2 linked regions of the Homo sapiens genome follow. The protein of the gene in region 2 purifies or fractionates together with the protein of the main gene of each other region. This does not show direct contact. Each region holds a gene or a part of one and is shown on either strand. Other genes may lie near its edges.

Evidence for each region. Proteins that work in one complex are often made in the same cells at the same time.
Region 1: the proteins of POLR1F (region 2) and DHX40 fractionate together in Homo sapiens (co-fractionation; one large-scale study listed by BioGRID). This does not show direct contact.

What each region holds. Positions count from the first base shown.
Region 1 is NC_000017.11:59,575,610-59,579,109, reverse strand, and holds part of DHX40 (probable ATP-dependent RNA helicase DHX40), read right to left. Parts: intron 1,845-3,500; coding exon 1,745-1,844; intron 1-1,744. UniProt on the Homo sapiens protein: Probable ATP-dependent RNA helicase.
Region 2 is NC_000007.14:19,699,038-19,702,537, forward strand, and holds part of POLR1F (DNA-directed RNA polymerase I subunit RPA43), read right to left. Parts: intron 1,244-3,500; coding exon 1,035-1,243; intron 1-1,034. UniProt on the Homo sapiens protein: Component of RNA polymerase I (Pol I), a DNA-dependent RNA polymerase which synthesizes ribosomal RNA precursors using the four ribonucleoside triphosphates as substrates.

The DNA.
Region 1 (3,500 bases), on a different chromosome or scaffold from region 2:
ACCTAAATGTCCATTAACCATTAATGGAAGAAGGGATGAACAAATTGCTTTGCATATATGTATGTAGTATATATACACACGCATATATACACACACAATGGAATATATATATATATATATACACACACACACTATGCAATATTATTCAGCCACAAAAAAGAATGAAGTACTGATACATGCTACAATGTGGACGAACCTCAAAAATATTATGCTAAGTGAAAGAAAGCAAACACAGAAGGCCACATATTATATGATTCTATTTGTATGAAATATCCAGAATAGAAAATACCTACTGCTTCCTGCTGACACATCTAAAGAATTTTTTAAAAAAGAAAATACGTACAAACAAAAAGTAAGACTGGTAGTTGCCAAGGGCTGGGGTCAAGAGGGGAATGTGGAGTACCTGCTTAATGGGTATGGGGTTTTATTTTGAGGTGTTGAAATATTTTAGAACTAAGCAGAAGCAGTGGTTGCGCAATACTGTAAATGTACTAAGTACTACTTAATTTTTCATTTTAAATGATTAATTTTATGTGAATTTTGCCTCAATACAAAAATACACAAACTTGAAAGTCAGCTTCAGACCATTTAAACAGATTCAGAATCTAATTTCAACTAGCCCTTAACATGCCATTCTAAGCCAATTAAATGGTGAACAAGTCAGGTAAGGAACCAAAGTAGGATAGCAGTAACAAGACAACATTCTGAAACATGCTATTTAATGGCTTTTGCCTGTGCAGGAAACAGAAAATTACAGAGGTTAATTTACCCAGGAGAGCACTCCCTTAATCCCTTAGTGAAACCATTATTTTTAAAGTAACGAAGAAAAGCAGAGGAAATTAGACTTCCTCTCAGACCTGGGTGATCATTTTACCCAGAAGAAACACACAGGATCTTTGAGATTCAGGTTCAGCCTTCCGGAGACAGACAATCAGACTTAGCTAAAGAAATAAAATATATTCGGTAAATGATAAATAACCCAGTCTTAAAGAACTTTGCATTAGTTGTCAGTCCAGACTTAAAATTTCTTAGTGTTTCCTTACTAAATTTACCCAAAAATTTGATAGCACTATTTACTACATCCAGAAAAGATAAGGGACCTGAATCATAGTTAATTTTCACAAAAAGGTAAAAAGTCAGAGACAATACATCCAGATAAACACTGGATATACAAACTAACTCTACCGAGTGAGGCTGCAAGGTAGAAGGAAATATCAAATCATCTAAGGTATATGCTTATAATGGGAGTACAGAAAAATAGGTTTGGCTTCCTATTTAGTGAAACCCATAAAGCATTATACATAATCTTAAATTTGAAAAGAAGCTTCAAGTTGCCAAGTAGTTAAAAAGTGTGAACAGCCAAGTACGGTGACACATGCCTGTGGTCCCAGCTACCCAGGAGACTGAGGCGGGAGGATTGGCTGATCTCCATACAAGGCTGTAGTGTGCTATGACTGCACGCCTGTGAATAGTCACTATATTCCAGCCTCAGCAACATAATGAGACCCTGTCTCTAAAAAAACAAAAAGTGTGAATAGGAATATAGTATGTACCTCCTACTCCATTTCCTGCTCAAAGCAATCAATAATTACAAAACAAAATAGGTGATTACATGTTAAGAACATCAAAAAGTAGGAGAGAAGGGAATTAGTGGAGGGCACAGAAAAGCAAACTCAGTAATGTTTAGCTAATGTTTAGTAACGATAGGCTTCCTTGACTTTAAGAGAAAGTTCAAAAGTTTTACCTGATTCCATCTATTGTCAAAGACGTTGCAGAAATATTGGTGGATATGACACATTTTCTAATTCCAGGTGGTGGTGGCAAAAATATCCTCCTCTGTTGATCTGAAGTATATATAAAAAGAAAATACCAATTTACAACATGCATGTGTCAAACTCGAGTTTTGAAGAACTTAATTTTTCATTACAAGTCATGTTTCTAGGCCGGGCGTGGTGACTCACGCCTGTAATCCCAGCACTTTGGGAGGCTGAGGCGGGAGGATCACAAGGTCAGGATATCGAGACCATCCTGGCTAACATGGTGAGACCCTGTCTCTAAGAAAAATACAAAAAATTAGCAGGGCGTGGGGGCGCGCCCCTGTAGTCCCAGCTACTCGGGAGGCTGAGGCAGGAGAATTGCTTGAATCTGGGAGGCAGAGGTTGCAGTGAGCCAAGATCGCGCCACTGCACTCCAGCCTGGGCGACAGAGCGAGACTCCATCTCAAAAAACAAAAAAAAAAAAACAGAGGCAAGAGAAAATCCAGAACATTATTTTCAATGTAGCAGTAAAAAAGAATGAAATTATTTACTCTGTATAGAATAATATATGTCTATGTACATATTTAGTTAATGATTAATAACAAACCAAACATAATGGGTTTTTATCAGTTTCAATGTAAATTATAAAAGCATCGGTGAACCAAATCTTGAGAAAACAATGAGAACCTTAAACAATGATCCTAAGAATTTCCCTGAAGATGACAAAATCTAAAATAGATATCTATGCTTCAATAGAGAGTAAGAAGCTAATATCATCATAAAAAAGATTTCCAAAATAGCACATCTATGTTCTTTACTGACACATATATTCCAAAACTTTGTTAATATAGGGATAAGAATCACCCAATCAACAAAAGCTGTTAATACGCATACATGTAAAATATAAAAACATTCAAATGCTAATTCCAACTCCAAATAGGAGGCTAAGGTTAATTTCCCTTTAACTTTACAAGTTAAATTCCATAATAAAAGTTTTATAAAACAAATTCTAAACCTCATTCAACAATATTTACTATAACCAAAATGTCAAATCAAGAGTTTGCATTTGCTCTTGGAATTCACCAAAGAACAGGATCATTCTTGAAAAGCAGACTAAGGCATGGCTACTTTAAAAGGAAAATGATCCACAGCCAGGCATGGTGGCTCACATCTGTAATCCCAGCAATTCTGGAGGCCAAGGCAGGCAGATGACCTGAGGTCAGGAGTTTGAAACCAGCCTGGCCAACATGGCAAAATCCCATCTCTGCTAAAAAAAAAAAAAAAAAAATACAAAACTTAGCCAGGTGTGGTGGCGAGCGCCTGCAATCCCAGCTACTTGGGAGGCTGAGGAAGGAGAATCGCTTGAACCCAGGAGGTGGCGGTTGCAGTGGGCTGAGATTGCGCCACTGCACTCCAGCCTGGATGACAAGAACGAGACTCCATCACAAAAAAAAAACAAAACAATCCACTGTGTTTAGACTTAGATATAGCTGGATATACACAATTTCTAAAAATTCTGTGGCAATGGCAAATTAGGTTTTGACTTACAGTAATACCAGCAAGAAACTACTGTCCTCATTTCAAAGAATTCTCACCAATAGTTTTGTTTTGCTGGGAGAAACAATACTCTAAACGATAATAAGGGGGATATCCACGACTCTCAAAAAAGTGAATGTAAAAAGACTTCAGGCAAAAATCACTACTGTCAAGGAATGCTGGTTCTCACTGATTTGTTTCATGATC
Region 2 (3,500 bases):
TCCAAGTTTTGGGTTGTTTCAGAAAAATTTGGTCACTGAACATTAAACACCACAATACCTAGGCTTATTAACCAAACCACTGACATCTAATAGAAAATATGATCTGGTATTTATCAAAGCAATGGAGTTTCCAGTCTACTATTTTAATCTTGTTTCAAATAATAGTCCATTGTTCTACTTAGCTGATACTAAGATAGTATTACTTTAACATTGTGAATTATTTTACACCACTAAAATAAAACATGGATCGATGAAGTAGCTTTCTCTCCAGAACTTCAGTCTTATACAGTAGCACTAGGCACATGTACCTAATCACTACCAAAAACATAACTTTAGAAATTCAGTTCCTCAGTCAGACTTAGTCATATTTCAATGCTCAATAGTGAGGCTGCTGTACTATGTATATAAACTGTATTTCTGTCATTACAGAAATTGAACAGCTGTTCCAGAACTTCAACCCATACTCTTGTAACTTTAAGGCAAAATACAGAAAAAATTATTAGCAATAGCAGCATTTTAAGAGTTGTCTCTCTCCTTCTTCCTTTAAACTTGGCTCCCATGGAATCAAGCTCAAGATCAGAGTTAATTCTTATAATAATTTCTATACAGAATAATACAGAAATTAAAATATCTGGCACAGAAGACAATAATCAACACAATTTTTTGTGTGTAAAAACAAAGCAGGCCAATAGTTAGGAAGGTAATTGTGCTTTCAGTAGTTTCAAGTTTAGAGGTCAACTTTAAAAAAAAAGTTAACAACAAAATAGAAAATACTCAGCAAAATTGAACTATTAAATATTAAAATACAGACCAGTTAGCTAGTCTGTGTTTCAGAATATTTATTTGATGCACTGTTACAGATTACTTAAGAGTATTGTTTATATTGACTTTATGGTTTGAAAGCATGAATATTCCTATAAACAGGTATTTTTAGAGAGGCTTATTCTCTTTAAAATTAAAATAAAATTCTCTTTAAAATTCAGAATTAAATAGAAATTAAGTACCTAGTGATAATTACGTAATGATAAACTAACCTTGTGATATTTAGTTTTCCCCGAATGCAGAATACTCCAGCAGCATCTGAGTCTAAACGAAATACTTCAAATTCTAGTTCATCACCCATGTTTATCTCCATGGTTTGCCACTGCTCAGCTGACAACTGCTCAGGTTTAGGAATGGAGGCATTGAAACACCCATGTACTAAACAGCCAATGTGGCTAGAAGACACTTTATTAACTATACCCTGGGAAGAAGAAGGAAGAAAGAGCGTAACATAAAGAACACATCCACAAAGTTAAAAGGTGAACCAAACTTTACAAGCTTCAAATAATCTTCAAAGAACAAACATCAAATTAATGGTCTAATTTAATATGGAAAAAGTTTACCTCAATTAAAACTTACCACATGTCATGCCAAAACATCACTTTAGAATACCACTGGGTTTTGAGAAAGCTCAAACTTTATTATATAAGTAATTGCACATTAACTGTCTAACTGGGCACATTAACTTTCTAACTGGATAAACTAACCTGCCCCCGCCACCCTGTCCAAGAAAAAAAACCATCTCAACTCCCCACTGCAGGATTCCTTAGGGAGGACAGTATTACTCTTTAGCTACATTGAAACCAAGCAAACCCCATATAACTTCTAAAAAGACCTCATATGCGTTTTATAACTGGGATCCATGTTACGTTTCTGTAAATAGACCAAATTTCAAAGCTTAAAAATGCATTCTTTAATTATTTAATTTAGCATGATGCAAGCATTCCATTAGAAGACAGCTTACCCTTTAAATGTAAATATTGACCATGACTATTTTTTGGCTAAATCACGAAAGTATTATTAGAAGCTTTAAAACTAAAACAAAAGTATGTGCTATATGATTTTAAGATGAGACTTTGCATAAAACTTATTTTTCTTCTCAGGGTCAATATATACAAAGCATATAAATGAGACTCAGAAATATTAAAAATTCACATTTTCTGAATTATGAAACTGCAAATAATGCCGATGTGTATACAATGCTGTTTAACATCAGCAACCCTTTACACATGTGACAGAATAAAACTTCCCTATCTGGTATGATCAGAAGTCTAGTGTTCCCACTGGTAGTTTCCAGATGGTCTAGATAAACAAACTGGTACAGCTATAAAATAAAAGATTATTCAGTAATAAAGATAAATAAGTTCTCACCATAAAAAGACATAGCGAAACCTTAAATGCATATTGCTAAGTGAAAGAAGTCAATTTGAAAAGGATACATACTCTATTCTTCTTCTTTAAAAAGGCAAAACTACGGAAACAGTAAAAAGATCAGTGGTTGCCAGGGATTACAGGGAACGGAGGGAAGAAGGGAGAAATGAATAGGTGGAGCACAAGCGGTTTTTAGGAGAGGATAACTATTCCGTATCATACTATAATGGAAGATAAGTTGTTGGGATTCACTCAGGATAGTGGCAGAAATATTAAAGGGAAATATTAGGGAAAGTTATAGGGAATAGTCACAAACCTTTTTGGAAGGCCAAAAGGTTACATAGCTTGTAATAGCTGAACAGGCCGAAGACAGCCGGTTCTTACCTTAGAGCATTAAGTTACAGAGTAAATACTAGGGACAATAGAGGCTTCCCCAGTTAAGTCTGTTTACCCTACCTCTGTTAACTAACCTTTAAGTCAGATGGCCTCTGGGGGGGCAGGGATATTGCCCCCAGTGATATTTACTTTAAACCTCGGTACCTGAGCTTTAATCATTCATAGAACTACTCACTTAACCATGTTAATTATCCAAAAGTGTGTGGACTCAGAGCTTCTGTTGTTAATTGTATACGAAATAAATGCCTGGAGTGTGAACTACTCAGGGCCAGCGGCAGTGACAAACCTCTCTCGGTGTGTAGGCAGTCGGACACTCAGCAGTACTGGCAAAGCAATATCTGTGTGTCAGTGTACGTTTCATTCATCCATCTTTTAGGTCAAGGTCTGCAGGCAGACCCCCGCAGCTAATGCCCTCTTGTGAGGAGCAATACCTCAATAAATGCCATGACACATTTGTGGAAACTCATAGAATGTACAACACAAAGACTGAACTCTAATGTAAACTACAGACTTTACTTGATAATAATGTATCAATATTGGCACAAAAATGGTAACAAATGCACCATACTAATGCAAGTTAATGTTGATAATAGGGGAAAGGGGGTGGTTATATGGGAACTCTATACTCTCCATTCAATTTTTCTGTAAACCTAAAACTGCTGTTAAAAATATGTCAATTTCAGAAAATCAATGAAAGAAAAGGTTTTTTAATATATGAATCCAGAACAACGGGAAAGCTACATGAAGGAGAGAGTGGATCTCAAGGCCTACCTCACACTACACACAAAAATTATTTGAGAATGATCACAGACTTAAATGGAAAAGCTAAAACTAAAAGCTTGTAGAAGTCGACAGAACAGTATCTGCACAACTTTTCGGCAGACAAATTTCTTTGATAGGGTCCAGAAAGC